2 separate regions of the Homo sapiens genome follow, and region 2 is linked to region 1. The links come from fine-mapping of genetic effects on gene expression. Tissue or cell type: coronary artery. Region 1 holds a variant in brackets; the other region holds the start of a gene. All regions are shown on one strand. Distances are between the middles of the regions.

What was found. PIP is the estimated chance that this variant, and not a neighbour inherited with it, causes the effect.
Region 2: it holds the start of ZNF232-AS1, and the variant in region 1 is fine-mapped to the expression of ZNF232-AS1 in coronary artery (GTEx, PIP above 0.99). The same link has a PIP of 0.9 or more in left ventricle and thyroid.

The regions. Positions count from the first base shown.
Region 1 is chr17:5,653,251-5,661,352 of GRCh38, forward strand. No RefSeq gene overlaps it. Among named protein-coding and RNA genes, the nearest start is that of NLRP1, 73 kb to the left of the region's middle. The variant C/T (reference allele first, on the strand shown) is at 4,102.
Region 2 is chr17:5,107,249-5,115,346 of GRCh38, forward strand. ZNF232-AS1 (ZNF232 antisense RNA 1) reads left to right here and starts at 4,687. Exons shown (of 3, transcript NR_135658.1): 1 at 4,687-4,853; 2 at 6,138-6,204; 3 at 6,910-7,134. ZNF232 (zinc finger protein 232) reads right to left here and starts at 4,630. Exons shown (of 4, transcript NM_014519.6): 1 at 4,552-4,630; 2 at 2,146-2,620; 3 at 1,678-1,804. The coding sequence starts at 4,574. RefSeq lists an enhancer at 4,941-4,990.

The DNA.
Region 1 (8,102 bases):
CTTGAGCTCCAGCTTTCTAGGGTCACACTTGACAGTGGTTGTCTGCATTTCCTAGAGAACAGAACCTGAGACAAAAGTTTCCTTGCTGATGGTTTATTTAGGGGAAGATGGTGCAAGTCCCAGGAATCATGTCTGAGAAAAAGGGAAAGTGAAGCAGAAAAGGAGTCAAAGCAAATACAAGGATGTGTGCTACTGGGCTGACCACAGCATTGCAGTAAACACAGGGGGTTGCTCAGGACCCTGGGAGGTTTCTAGAAAAGCACAGGGAGCCACCCAGGCAGCTTCCAAGAAAGCCAGGGCTCTAGTCAGGCCAGTGAGTAGGGAAACGGCCTCTCCATCATGTTAGCACAGTACACAGGAGCCCATTGGGTTTTAGAGACAGTGGTGGCCATCAAAATTTTTGACTATGGCAGGGAGAATAATGTCCCTCCCAAGATGTCCACAACCTAATCCCCAGAACCTCTGAATCTGTTAGCTTACACAGCAAAGGGGAATTAAGGTTGCAAGTGGAATTAAGGTTGCTAATCAGATGACTTAAGAAGAAGAAATTATTCTGGATTGTTCTTGGTGAAACCAATGCAATCCCAAGGGCCCTTAAAAACAGAAAGGGGAGGTAGAAGAGAAGGTTGGAGCGATGGGTTGTGAGAAAGACTCTACCAGCCTCTGCTGGCTTTGTAGGTAGTGGAAGGGGCCGTGAGCCAGGGAATGCAGGTACCCTTTAGAAGCTAGAAGAGGCAAAGACATGGATTCTCCCCTGCAGCCTCCAGGAGGAACATAGTCCTGTCCATAGTCCTGTCCTTGATTTTAGCCCAGTGAGACTTATGTCAAATTTCTGACCTACAGAACCATAAGCTAATAAGTTTGTGTAGTTTTAAGCCACTTAATCTGTGATAACTTGTTGCAGCAGCTATGGAAAATGAACAGAGTGACCCCAGGAGCAGATGATTGTCCCTGGAGTCTGCAAGGTTACTGGAAGGGGTGGCGTGTGGTCAGAATCTGATTGGAGGCCTCTAAAGGACTTATCAGATTTGGCATCCTGGAGGGTGAGTTCCCCCCGAGGTGAAGGTCCTCGTCACCGTGACAGCTCCCCTCCACGTCAGTGTCCAGAGCACTGCAGGGTAGCTTCCACCTCACTGGGCAGCAGTGTTCCATTCTCTGTCCTTTGTCCATCTCCAGACTCTCTCATGCTCAAGTACGTTGCTCTTCCATTGTGTTAAAAGCATTAGGAACACCCTCTGTGTGTTAGAAAGGCAGCTTTCTAAACTGCCTTTCTTGAAATATTTATTGAGCGCTTACTTTGGGAAAGAAGGATGCCTGCGAATACAGGGATGAACAAGACAGGTTCTGAGTCCATTTTCCTAATGGGGGGACAGGACATTAAATCTTATGAGCATATGGCTGGGCATGGTAGCTCATGCCTGTAATCCCAGCACTTTGGGAGGCTGAGGTGGGTGGATCACCTGAGGTCAGGAGTTCGAGATTAGACTGGCCAACATGGTGAAACCTCCTCTCTACTAAAAATACAAAAATTAGCCAGGTGTGGTGGTGCATGCCTGTAATCCCAGCTTCTCGGGAGGCTGAGGGAGGAGAATCGCTTGAACTCGGGAGGCAGAGGTTGCAGTGAGCCGAGACCAGGCCATTGCACTCCAGCCTGGGCGACAGAGTGAGACTCCATCTCAAAAGAAAAAAAAATCTTATGAGCTCACCAATAAGTATAAATTCACAAATGATGGTAGCTGTTATTATGAAAAAGCTCTAGAAGCTATTCAGATTCACAGGAGGACATGCATGAGATCAGGGACTCAGGGCAGGCCTCTCTGAGAGGTGACATTTAAGCTCATGCTTAAATGATGAGAAGCTTGGGCCACACAGAACTTGGTGGTCAGAACAGGCAGGTGCATTTCCTTGAACCCGGATGTGTTTCCTACCAACCAGGCAAGGCTTTTGGTTACATTACTTCAGGTAGGAGCTTTCTCCTGCCCAATTCAGCAATATCTACAAGATGCCCCCGCTGTCTTGTGTTAGAATATCAGGTGAAATGTATCTGAGCACATGGGATTCCTTCTAACAGTTGTTCAATGAAGAGCGTTGGCTCTGGGATGATGGACACAGGGAATCTCCCCCATCCTCAGCACGTCTCAGGAGTCTCTGCTGAAATTTGGGTCTTGTTTGGTCGAAAGAGAAAACCGTGCCTGGAGTAGCTGTGGAATAAGGGAGAACCGTCTTGGCCCTGGAGGCAGAGAGGCCTGGGGCTGGATCTCAGCTCCACCATGGACTAACCTCACAGCTTGGGCAAACGGCCTTCCTCTTTGAATGAGCTTCCCAAGCTGTGAAATGGAGGTCACAATGCCTGCCTCAGGGAGAGGTTGTGCAGGTTCAGCGAGGTGATAGGTCCTCCACTTCTGTTATATCCAAGACATTCAAACAATTATAATAACACACTATGATGTAACACTATTCAAATAATTATTAACCCCATGCAAGTTCAATTTTTATGATGTGGCAAGATGCATTGCCCCCTCCATTATAATGAGTAGGGGTGTGTGTTTGTGTGTGTGTGAGAGAGAGAGAGAGAGAGAGAGAGAGAGAGAGAAAGAGAGAGAGAGAGATTTGAAACAAACACGCCAGTCAGAGTTGGTGCCATGCCCTCAGAGAGGGTGTCATTCACAGTGGGAATGCAGAGTCAAATGTTTCTTAGCACAACAATGTGCTGGAATAGTTTCTCTTAAAGGACAAGGTCAATGTTGTCTTAACAGGAGGAATAACCTTTTCTCATGTGGGAAACATTATGACTTGCTCTGATGTGGTGTCTTTGGGCCTTACGTAAACTCTGAATGAGGATTCCAGGCCACGCTTTCTCCTCGCTCCTGGGAGCAGAGCCCGCACCCTCCTCTTTGGTTGGTTATTTTATTTTAAAATAACTGTTTCAGTTTAGAATAGTTTTAGATGTATAGGAAAGTTGCAAGAATATTACAGAGAGTTCCCGTATACCCCACACCCAGTTTCTCCCATACACACCTTCTACTTTGTGACTCAGCAAGGATGGAGTTGGGGAGAGCCTGTGCTGGCACCCAGCGGGAGCATCTTAACAAAACAGAAGGACCCAATGGGTCACCAAAGGAAGGGATAGAAGCTGGAAAGAAGCAAGGGTGGAAGAGAAGGTGTAGAGAAGACCCCAACCGCGGGTGCAGGAGGCAGCGACAGTTACTGAATTTCCCAAATTTTTAGCAAACTTCCCTCCCTCAGCCTGTACCACGAGCAATCAAAAACACACTTGGAACAGAACAGAGGGACTTTGCCACACCTGGAGTATATTTCGTATTATTTCCAGAGCAGGTGGTGTAGGAAATACCTATTGCCAAATAAGAAATGCTACAGACAGATCAAGTCAAAGTGCATAAGGAAAAGAACCGTTTTAAATGCTGAAATCTCAGAGGTAGTTAATACTTCTCAGAGGAAGAAAAGTGAGTTATTTGTAACTCACTTTTCACGGTCCTGATTTTGAGGTGTGTGTCTGCCATAAAAACATGCTAGTCTTTAGGGGGGCAAGCTCTGCTGTCTTGAGCTCTTTCTTCTTAGACTCTCAGAACAAATATGTAGATGTAATGTTTTTACTTAAGATTACACATATTGGCCAGGCGTGGTGGCTCATGCCTGTAATCCCAGCACTTTGGGAGGCCAAGGCGGACGGATCATGAGGTCAGGAGATCGAGGCCATCCTGGCTAACAAGGTGAAACCCCGTTTCTACTAAAAATACAAAAAAATTAGCCAGGCGTGGTGGCGGGCACCTGTAGTCCCAGCTACTCAGGAGGCTGAGGCAGGAGAATGGTGTGAACCCAGGAGGTGGAGCTTGCAGTGAGCCAAGATCGTGCCACTGCACTCCAGCCTGGGTGACAGAGCAACACTCCGTCTCAACAACAACAACAAAAAAAGATTGCACATATTTTCCATGTATTATTGTATGGACATGGCTTTAGGGTTCCTCTCCCAAACCATAGCAGACTCTGGAGAGAGGGTGGGGAGATCTCAAATTTTTCTGGGGCTGGATGATTGGGCACGTGGGTTGGTGGCTTTGCAGAGGGAACCTGTTGCTTCAGTGA[C/T]GTGGGGCAGATGGCTCAGCGGTGGATGGCGGAGCAAGGTGATTGCTGGCTGCCATCTCTTGAATGATCCTGGCATGAGCTCCTCCTGTTCCTCCTGGGATTGCTATGGAAACCCAGACTGAGTTGTTGTCTCTGTGTCGGGGCTTTCCTGGGTGTTTTTCCTCCTGGCCTCAACGCTTACAAATCATTCTTTCCTGTGTGCAGATCAGGTGATTCTCCCAGGCCCTGTCTGGGCAGGGTGACTGACAAGTCAATTTGGTCAGACAATTGCTTGGGCTGATTTTTCCATTGCACTGAGCTCCTTGTTTTGGCTCCTGGTAAACTGGGTTTGATCTGGGGCTGGGAGGTGGAGGTTGGGGATCAGGAAGGGAGGGAGGGGATGCCATGTGAGCCTTCTCTTTCTCAGGGGAGCCTGAGAGGGAACGGTGAGAATCCACAGTCCCCAGGTCTGAAGCAGGGAGCTGGGCTGTGTCGAGATTGGGGATGGAGGTATCATTCCCACTTTAAAGATGAAGACATTGAGTTCAGGGAGTTGAGCTGCTTTACCCAAAGCCACATGACTTACGTGGCAGAACCTGGACTCTACCTGAGGGCCTGGTGGGGAGCACGGTGTCCTTTTCGCTGCTTAAGTGGAGGGAGAACTGAAAGAAGCCTTTGCCTGATGTTCTGTGTCTCCTTTTTGTGATGGGGAAGGATTTTGGCTACTGTTTTAGGTCTGTGGTTCATGTTGCCCAAAGCACTGACGACAAATCTGCACATGACCTGACCTTGGGCTTTGGGCAACCCTCTAGATGCCAGTTCCCGAGAAAGACCCTCCACACTTTCAGCTTGCCCATCTGACTGATGGGAAGCTTACCCCTAGAAAGGCATGGCTGAAGCAGAGAACAGAAAGTGTGATCCTTGAGGCCAGAGACTTGGATGTTTATTTCGCTTCTGGTACTTACTAGCTTTGTGACCTTGTGCAAGTCACCTGCCCTCTCTGAGCTTTAGCTCCCTGGCTGAGCAATGCACAAGCCACCTGCCCTCTCTGAGCTTTAGCTTCCTGGCTGAGCAATGCAGTGGTTAATTATTGCTTGGCCTACCTATCAGGGTTGCTGTGAGGATTTAATAAGATTGGAAACATGGAAGCTTTTTGTAAGCCCATAAGGTCAAGCCAAGCCTCCATGCAAGAGCTATGTGGCTTTGATATTCTTGAGGCCCAGAAGGCAAGGCTGACTTCTGAAGCCATGGGTTTGGGGCTGGGGAGGGTGGAGCTGGCTCAGAGTTTGCAGCCATTCAGGGGCCATGTTGGTGATTTTTCCCTTAAGGAGGCCTCTGGTCTAGGGGGCCAGCCAGGGATTAGGGAAGAGGATACACGCTGGCCCATGCTTGTGCTTGGCAATGCCTTGCCACACCTGCCCTCTTTTGCCCCTCACATCTGCTGAATGGCAGGAAGATGGGCCATTGGGTGCAAAGAGGACACACTACAGTATGGCTATGAAGAGAGGGAGTGGCAGTGCATGCGAAGGCTGGAACTAAAAGGCAACTTGACTTCTTCCACTGGCGTGGCCAAGGTTGTCCATTTGCAGAGTCACGTCGTGCTTTACGTAAAAGCTGCTCAGGGAGCAGGGCTCAGAGATAATAAATGTAGCTGAGTTTGGAAACAGCCACATCCCCATTCACCACGGACAGAAGTGGGAGTCAGGGATGTAGCCCAGGGAGGCTTCACCCCTCACCCCTAGGCAGCCCTTTCTTCCTCGGCAGCAACACTGTGAGACCCTCCTCTTTTCACAGCAGGGGCCATCAGGCCCGGAAGTAGGCTTGGCCAGAGCCCAGGTGCAGGATCAAGCCTCACTTGAGGTTGGAGATGTGGAAGAGTTCTAGCCTCCCCTTCTGGGCTCAGCATCAAGTCCTACTGTCAGCCCGTCAGCCGCTGATGCTAGGGTTGAGTTATGCTAACCAGGCCTCGGCCTCCATCTAGAGCCCCAGCCTCTCCTCTCCTTCCCCCAACTGCTGGGATTCCCTTTTCTTTTCTTTTCTTTTCTTTTCGTTTCGTTTCTTTTCTCTTCTCTTCTCTTCTCTTCTCTTCTCTTCTCTTCTCTTCTCTTCTCTTCTCTTCTCTTCTCTTCTCTTCTTTTCTTTTTTGAGACAGTGTTTCGCTCTTGTCGCCCAGGCTGGAGTGCAGTGGCATGATCTCGGCTCACTGCAACCTCCACCTCCTGGGTTCAAGCGATTCTGCTGCCTCAGCCTCCGGAGCAGCTGGGATTACAGGTGGCTGTCAGCACATCCAGCTAATTTTTGTATTTTTAGTAGAGACAGGGTTTCACCATGTTGGCCAGGCTGGTCTTGAACTCCTGACCTCAGGTGATCCACCCGCCTCGGCCTCCCAAAGTGCTGGGATCACAGGCGTGAGCCACCGCGCCTGGCCAGGGTTCCCACTTCTAACAGCTGGGTCCATTCCCAGCTCTACTTCTTTCAGTCGCTATGAGGCCCTGTTTCCCTCCTCATCCTTTCTAACTGCCCCTTCTTAGGGGTAGTGGCCCATCCCTGGACCCCAGCCCAACATTGGTTCCTCTAAGCTCAGGATAGGAAGCAAAGTTCTGTGTGTTGAGGGCCTTTTTTTGCTTCTGGCCCTTTAAACCTAAGTAGATCAAAGAAGTGGATTCTAATTATTCCCATTGTACAGAGGAGGAAACTGAGGCTCAGAAAGGCTAAGAGACTTACCTAAGGTAACATGAATGGTAGAGACAAGATTCCAATCCACATCCACAGGGATTCAAAGGCTGTGCTGGGTCTTGGTGCAGTCACCCACCTGCCTGACGCCTGCAGGGGTCTGATTTCCAGGGGGATGTATTCCCCGTCCTGGGAACCTCCTGTTTGTGCTGTTTTGCTGAGAGCCAGACATTCAGTGCACGCCAGGGCCAGCCACATGACTCCACTTCAGACTGGTTCTTTGACAAAGTTTTAGATGTTCCTTATGGAAACTTAACCTTGAATCTGTTTCTCTGTCCTGCTCAATAGTTCTGTGTATTACTTAATGTGAAAGTAAGGCTCAGAGACAATAGCATTTAGAAAAAAAGAAAGAGCTTACTTGTAAAGAAGCTCAAGAGAGTCAGAATTCATAAAGACTCTGGTTTATCAAATAAAACACAACAGGAATTTAAGGAAAAAAGCACGACAAACCTTCCAAGGTCACTGAGTTTGTTTTGAGTCCATTCATGGCGGAAAATAGCAATTTTCTCACATATTATCACACCCATAAAAGTCGTGACAAATTTTTAGATATCAGCATTGCCCAAGTCAGAGATAAAAATTGTTTTGTTATGAAGTTAGCCAACTAAGGGAAAGGCTCAAGATTTCATTTGTTTTGGGGGGCCAGAACTAGATAGGATGATCTTCTTATTTTTGGTTTCTTTTTTCCTGGTTGGGAGACATGGTGTGTTCACTTATTCTTTATTTTTTAAATTGTTTTGAGATGGGGTCTTGCTATGTTGCCCAAGCTGGTCTCAAATTCCTGGGCTCAGTGATCCTCTTGCCTTGGCCTCCTAAAGTGTTGGGATTACAGGTATGAGATGCCATGCCTGATCCCAGGCTTTTTTTTTTTTTTTGAGACAGAGTCTTGCTCTGTTGCCCAGGCTTGAGTGTAGTGGTACCATCTTGGCTCACTGCAACTTCTGCCTCCCAGGTTCAAGTCATTCTCCTGCCTCATCCTCCTGAGTAGCTGGGATTACAAGCATGCGCCACCACACCCGGCTAATTTTTGCATTTTTAGTAGCGGTGGGGTTTTGCCATGTTGGGCAGGCTGGTTTCGAACTCCTGACCTCAAGGTTATCTGTCTGCCTCAGCCTTCCAAAGTGCTGGGATTATAGGCATAAGCCACTGTGCCTGGCCCCCACTTATTTTTTAATTTTTTAATTTTTTTGAGACAGAGTCTCACTCTGTTGCCCAGGCTGGAGTGCAATGGGGTGGTCTTGGCTCACTGCAACCTTCGCCTCCCAGGTTCAAGCAATTCTCCTGCCTCA
Region 2 (8,098 bases), 550 kb before region 1:
ATGATGGCGGGCGCCTGTAGTCCCAGCTACTCAGGAGGCTGAGGCAGGAGAATGGCGTGAACCCGGGAAGTGGAGCTTGCAGTGAGCCGAGATCACGCCACTGCACTCCAGCCTGGGCGACAGAGCGAGACTCCATCTCAAAAAGGAAAAAAAAAAAAAAAAAAAAAAAAAGAGTGTGTTGCCTTTTTGTTTTTAAATGTCCATAGCACATTTTATGTTTTATCTGTTGTAATGCTCCCTATAGCCTAAGGAGAACAGAAACCAATTGCTTTAAGATAACTCAAGGTCATTTGACTTTTTTTTTTTTTTTGACAGAGTCTTGCTCTGTTGCCCAGGCTGGAGTGTAGTGGCATGATCTTGGCTCACTGCAACCTCTGCTTCCCTGGTTCAAGTGATTCTCGTGCCTCAGCCTCCCCAGTAGCTGGGATTACAGGCGCGTATCACACCTGGCTAATTTTTGAATTTTTAGTAGAGACAGGGTTTCACCATGTTGGCCAGGCTGGTCTTGAACTCCTGACCCAAGTGATCCACCTGCCTTAGCCTCCCAAAGTGCTGGGATTATAGGCGTGAGCCACCGTGCCCAGCCAAGATCATTTGATTTTTTAAAAATTCATTTTTTCAGGTTAAATGCTGTGGTTAAAAAAATCTGAAATATGCTTGCTATATATAAAAAAAAAATCACACAATAGCTAGCTTCTTTTTGAGAGTAAAGTAATAAAATTGATAAATGAATAGAGGCTTACTAAACAGAAGTAAAGGAGACAAGAAAAAGTCTGGAAAAAAGTCAAGGAAGAAAGAAGAGCTAAGAAGTAGAAACATACTTTTGGGACAGAGTCTAATTAATCTCCATTTCTATTTTTTCCCATTTTGTAACTAAGAAGAATTTGATTTTTCAAATGCCTTGGTTTGGTGATAGTGATGGGGGGGCAGTTATGGTGTAAAAGCAAATATCAAGTAGACTCTTCTTGGTTAGCCGCATATTCACAATACGGTCACAAGGCTACAGAGGTCAACAAGGAGAGTTCACGCCCCTGAGGCTCTAAGTCTAGTGTTCGCCGCTGGGAGAGAGGAGAGGTTGTTTGCAGGTATGTATGCAGGCCAAGAAGGAAGTTTCTGTAGTGAATCTGAAGGGTAGAAGGTGAGGGCACACATAAGAGAGTTTCAGATAGGGCTGTTTACATGAGGAAGAGGTGGTAAAGGTGATGACAGGCTGTATCTCACATAGGAGTGCTTTATGGCTTAAAAAGTGTTTTGCGAGGCCTCAGCGAGTTTAAAAAAAAAAAAAGGATCTCAAGGCTGGCCTCTAGCTCAGGGCAGAGTTATTATAGACTAGGAGTTAAGTGCAGTGGAGATGATAAGGCATAAATGAATGAGCTATTTCCTGGTCCTGATTTAGGGCTCTCTAAAGTTAAGAGATGCTGGCCAGGCTTTATATCCAGATAAGACCCAAGTTGAGCTTAATCCTCAGAGCTATCTTATGAGGTAGTTTATTCTTACTCCTAATTTTATGAGTGATGAAACAGGCAAAGTCTCTCACCTAAGAGATAAGAATAGTAAGGCTGTGATGATACCAAACATTTAAGCACCTACTACTATTTACCCTTTACAGGTACTAGGTACTGTGCCCTTTATAGTCCCTCTTTCTCCTCTCCCTCCCCACAGAATCCTGCTCCTCACCACTCTTTGGGAAAGGCTGGGTCTCCTTAGGCTGGAGCTGGATGCTCAGTGCTTCCTGGGCTGCTCCCAGAGATTCCTTCTTCTCCCATGGCTCTTCCTGTGCAGGTCCATGTGCAGGGCCTGGGACCTGGAGGTGATCAGGCACCACTCAGTTTAAATTTTCTTCAAATTACTAGTGTGGTTTCTGTCCCCTGCCTGGACACTTGCAGATGTGACCCTCCTTGGACCAAAGCTTCCAAGGAGACTTTAGAGAGCCTCCTCAGAGTCAGCACAAGGGAAGAAGAGGAGCTAGAGTCTCTTTCTCATTCAGGGCTCGAGGGCAGAAAAGACAGACACAGAAACACATACTAACTGCTCTACCTGGCCCAAGAGAGGTTTGAACTTGGCACCTCCCCCTACAGCTGCCCCTCGGTCCAGCCTGAAGGTCATCAATCTGGCTCCCATAACAGACCAAATCCCCCTTCCCACCTGCGGCTCTGGTTCAAGTCCTTTCTCTAAATCCTCCAGCACAGTCACAGCCTCCTCTCCACTCTTAGGGTGATGTCCCCGCACCCAGGATTGGAGCTCCTCAGGCAGGATGGTCAAGAATTGTTCCAGCACCAGGAACTCCAGGATCTGCTCCTTCGTGTGTTTCTCTGGCCTCAGCCACTCACAGCAGAGTACTCGTAGTTGGCTCAAGGCCTCCCGGGGACCAGGAGTCTCCTGGTAGCGGAGATGCCTGAAGCGTTGGCGGAAGATCTCTTGACTGGTAGAGTGGTTCCCAGGTAGCCTGGTCTCATACTCACAAGACTGTTCCTCTTCCTTTGGTCCCATCATCATCATCTTCTCTTGTCCCTGTGTACCCTGAAGGGCCAGAGTTTCAGCTGCTGTTAGTGATACAGCCATCCTAGTCTGCACTAGCTCTGCAGAAGGCTCATACCAGCTGGAATCTTGCAAGGGCCCCCTGTAACATAAGAAGAAATCATTCCTCTTTTTTTTTTTTAAGACAGAGTCTTTCTCTGTTACCCAGGCTGGAGTGCAGTGACATGATCTCAGCTCACTGCAACCTCCACCCCCGGGGTTCTAGCGATTCTCCTACCTCAGCCTCCCAAGTAGCTGGGATTACAGGCGCCTGCCACCACATCCAGCTAATTTTTTTGTATTTTTAGTAGGGACGGGGTTTTGCCATATTGGCCAGGCTGGTCTTGAACTCCTGACCTCAGGTGACCCACCCACCTCGGCCTCCCAAAGTGGTAGGATTACAGGCATGAGCCACCGCGCCCGTCCTCCTCTTCTTTTTTCATTCATTAAACATATACATATACTCAACACTCCAAAGAGCCAAACCCTGTCCTATGCCCTGTAGTCCCGCTTTTTCTTCCACCCCTCCCCAGAATTCTGCTGCACTAAGTCAATGTTTTTGAGAAACTTGCACCGTGGTAGAAACGGGGATGTAAAGTGGTTTTCTATAATACAACTAATTAAATGCCATTGACAGGAAAAATGTATCAAGAAAAAAAAAGTTCTGGGGGCCTATGGGAAGAAATGACTATTGGAAGAAATAAGTTTGAAGCAAAACCCAAGTTTCCAGATGCAGAGCCCAGAGCCGAGCAGCTTTCAGTGCAAGGTGGAATGTGTTGGGGAGGCAGCCTCCTCTGAGATGGCTCCTCCCTGCTTTCAAAAATTTCTGAAGTAGTAGCTACAGCAAAAGAAAAATATAAGTCCCCTTTAAGGAGCTGGATCTCATTCAAATGCCAAAGCCCTATTAAGGGGCAGCTATGAACAAGTCTCGGGTACAGTGGCCTGCGTCAAGGAAATCTAACAGGTGTAAACCAAAAAAGCATCTGAGATAGGTCTCAACCAATTTAGGGGTTATTTTGCTAAGGTTGAGGATGCACCCAGGAAAAAGACACACAAGCCACAGTAGGATCCGTGGCTCGCACTTTTACCAAAGAGGGTTTTGAGGGCTTCAATTTAATGGGGAGAAAGCTGGCAGGAGGGGAAGGAGGAGAGAAGAGGGAGGGTATGTGGTGAGGTAAGTGGCCACATTCTTGTGAGGATTTGATTAGAGCTCACTGAATCCACATGTTGCACGTGAAAAGAGGAAGTCAATTATGAATTTGTCTCGTGCTCAGTAAATCTGCATTTTACACAAGATAAGGTAGACATACAGTAGAGGAAGAAGTCAAATATGCTTTGTCTCTGGGTGGGTGGAGGAACGATTTCTAGTCTTGTCCGGTGAAGCTCGGCTGTTCGTTTCCATTGCCAGGGTGAGGGAGGCCACCTGGGGGCATATGTTGCTTTCTATCTTGCAGCTATCGGTTTAGGAACAAAAGGAAAAGCAGTTTTTTTCCGTGACTCAGTTTCCAAGCTTAACTTTTCCCTTTGTCATAGTAAGTTTGGGGTCCTGAGATTTTATTTTCCTTTCACACAGGGAAGGAGGTGGAACGCATCAGAGGCCACGAAAGGAGCACAAAGGGGGACCGCTGGCCTAAGACAAAGGAGGCGCGAGGAAAAACGCGGAGCTCGCGTCTCCCAGGGTGATGCCCGGCGCCGCTGGCCCCAGCAAAACTTCTCTACCCCGGCCTCGGGCAGGTGCCCGCCCGGGGAGGGGGCTGTCGTCCAGGCCAGGTACAACTCCCCTTCCCACCCTTCACTCCCTACCCAAGGGTCTCGAGAAAAGAGAAGAGGAACATCAAGACCCCCCTCCACGGCACGTGACGCGACGCAACGCAGGTAGCGCAGCGCGGGCACCACGGGCAACCCAAACCCCTCTCCACACACAACCGCGGAGCTGCCTGCCAGGCCTGCTCACTGCAGAGCCGCCGCTGCCTGCGGGACGGGCAAAAGCCAAGCCGCCAGGTGGACCTCGGGGAAGCCGCCGCCAACACTCACCTCACAGGACCAGGAGGTTCCATCGGGGCGCTGCCGCGAATCGCGCCACTTACAGCCCTCACCCCAGGGGCAGGTTTGCGCCTGCGCAGGTCGCAGCCTCGGCCTCCAACTCCCAGAATCCTCCTCGCCGCCGGCTTCCGTTCGCGGACTTTGGCCCAGGCGCGTGGGCGCTGCCGAGAGGCTGGGAGCCCGGGAACCGGTTCCTGGACTTGAGCGGAGCGAGAAAGAGCGCGCCGCCTGCACGACTGGACTGGAGCGGCCGGGTGCCCTGGAGGCCCCTGGGAATTGCAGTCCTTGCGCAGGTGGAGAGTGAGCCCTTGTAAGCGGGTGACTTCATCAAGTTTGGGGGGTCTCTTGTGGAATTGTACCTGAAGGGCGGTGCTGGCGGACAGATGTCAGGGAAATTCTGGCCTTGTCCATGGCCTGTGGTAACACTTCTCCATGAGTTCTATTTTCCAATTACCTCTTCCCAGACCTGATGAGAGGGCCACAGCTAAGGAAGACGGTCCCTTCCACGAAAAAATATTCCCCAACCACTAGCCTGTACAATTCCTGGGGCGTAGGGGGAGGGGAGGAGAAAAAAGAATTCTAAGGTTAATTTTATTGCGATGGGGGAAATAGGGGTTGGTGTTTTTTTGTTGTTGTTATTTTTTATTTTATTTATTTATTTGAGACGGAGTCTTGCTCTGTCGCCCAGGCTGGAGTGCAGTGGCGCGATCTTGGCTCACTGCAAGCTCCGCCTCCCGGGTTCACGCCATTCTCCTGCCTCAGCCTCCTGAGTAGCTGGGACTAGAGGCGCCCGCCACCACGCCCGGCTAATTTTTTTTTTTTGGTAGGAGACACGGCGTTTCACCATATTAGCCAGGATGGTCTCGATCTCCTGACCTCGTGATCCGCCCGTCTCGGCCTCCCAAAGTGCTGGGTTTACAGGCGCCCGGCCGATTATTTTTTATTTTTTTTTTGAGACATGGTGGCCAACATGGTGAAACCCTGTCTCTATTAAAAATACAAAAAGGTTAGCTGGGCGTGGTGGCGGGCGCCTGTAGTCCCCACTACTCAGGAGGCAGGAGAATCGTTTGAACCCGGGAGGCAGAGGTTGCAATAAGCTGAGATTGTGCCACTGCACTCTAGCCTGGGCGACAGAGTGAGACTCCGTCTCAAAAAAAAAATTAATTAAAAATAAATTTATCTCACTATCAATTTTGCAGGATATTGATTGATCCAGTCTCTCAATACTTTTATAAAATAGCTTAATCCTAGTCTCTCCAAGAAAAATTGTTGTTCAACTGTGTAGTACCATAGTAACAGTTCTCAGATTCTCAGATTATTAAATTTGTTTCTCCAAGATATAGTATCCTTGAAAATGCGCATTGACACCCCCATGGCTGGGGGATATATTATCTTTTTTCCTTCAAAGTGCCATTGATAATTACTGCACGTAGGAGCTATGGATAAAAATAGTTATCATTTGTTGAATGTCTACTACGTGTCTAGAACTATGCCAGGAACTTAATGAAATTGTCTTATTTAGTCTTCACAGTTGCTCCACAAGGGATTGTATTAATGTCATTATCTTGATTTTACAGATGAGAAAACTCAAGACTCAGAAACAATAAAGGTTACAGAGATGAAATTGACAGAGCCTGAATTTCAGTATGTCAAACTTCAATGTGCCATTATACTTTTAAATCCTACAGAACAGATTGAATCACAACTTCTACTTTTACATGAGAGAAGACAATGGGTCCTATGACTTACTGTCAGTTTCCTTTTCCTGATTTAATTAGCTGCTTCTGTATCTAATTTTGCTAGGAATGGAGGAATAAGGCAAATTCCCTAAACTACATATTGACATTTATACTAATGTGAAAACCTCAAGTCCATTTGCAGACTTTTGGATTAGATTCTGTCCCAGAAAGACATCCACCCTAGAGTTCAGGATATCATACCCATTTTACTGTTCCCCTGGCACAATTCATAGTAAGGAAAAACAGACAAGGGGAAAGCTATTAGATTCTCGGTGCTGCTAAACAGGACACACAAGGACACCATTTTGTGATGATGATGGTGCTTTATGCAGCTTCCACCATTTACAAGATTTTCCTGTGGTGTGGAACCTCTCATGATAAAGCAAAGGAACTAGAAGCTTATTCCAGTCAAGATTTCTGATTTATCTTGTGGTAAGCATTTGGGAAGGACATATCTGCACATGACCTGAGACTAAGTACTATACACTGAATCAGATGAAAATTGCTCTTAGGAAGCTTACAATTTTCCAAATAGTTAGGACAAAAACAAACTCTCCTTCTCTCTTCCTATATGTACATACTGACATCTTTATCATTACTGTCTTCCTAGGGTTATGATTCTGTATGGTTTCTTTGGTGCTGCATTAGACCTGAGCTCTGATTGAAAATTCTTCCACGCTCGCTACATTCCAAAACTTTATCTCCAATATGAATTTCCAGATGCCTCACAAGGTCTGAGCTCCATCTGAAGGCTTTCCCATGCTTGTCACATTCATAGGGCTTTTCTCCACTATGAATTCTATGATGTCGAATAAAGTGTGAGCTCTGATTACAAGTCTTTGAACATTCATTGCATTCACAAAGTTTCTTTCCACTGTGAATTCTTTGATGCTGAATAAGTTGTGAGCTCCCCTTCAAATCTTTCCCACACCCAATGCATTTATAAGGCCTCTCTCTCACCTTGTATGGATTCTCTGATGTTCTGTAAGGACTGAGTTCTGGCCAGGCGCAGTGGCTCACGCCTGTAATCCCAGCACTTTGGGAAACCGAGGCGGGTGGATCAGCTGGGCTCAGGAGTTCGAGACCAGCCTGGCCAGCATGGTGAAAGCCCCTCTCTACTAAAAATACAAAAATTAGCCGGGTGTGGTGGTGGGTGCCTGTAATCCCAGCTAATTGGGAGGCTGGGGCTGGAGAATTACTTGAACCTGGGAGGTGGAGGTTGCAGTGAGCCGAGATCGGGCCACTGCACTCCAGCCTGGCAGCAGTGTGAGACTCCGTCCCAAAAAATAACAAACAAACAAAAAAGACACCAGAGGGCTTTGGGTCCCTCTCTCTCTGCCATGTGAGGACCCTGTGAGAAGGCAGCCAGGGAGCTCTCACCAGAACCTGACCATGTTGGGCCCTGGTCACAGCCTTGCAGCCTCCAAAACTGAGAAAATAAATTTCTGTTGTCTGGCATCCAGTCTATGGTATTTTGTTACGGCAGCCCGAGCTAAGACAGAGGAAAACTGGGGGCTGATGTGACGGCGGGGACTTTAGGTAGAAGGACCCCACGTCAAAAGTCAAAGCTAAAAATTCTGGAACGAGCCAGGAAGGCATCAGGACGTCTCATTTTATTTGCTAGAGGCATCTTTTGGGGGGTGGGGCGGTGGGTGGGTGGAAGGAGATGTGGCCAGTGAGCCTCTGACTTTTAATTGAGTTATTTCGAAACAAGGAACAGAGGGCCGGATGTGGTGGGTCGTGCCTGTAATTCCAGCACTTTGCGAGGCCGAGGCCAGTGGATCACCTGAGGTCAGGAG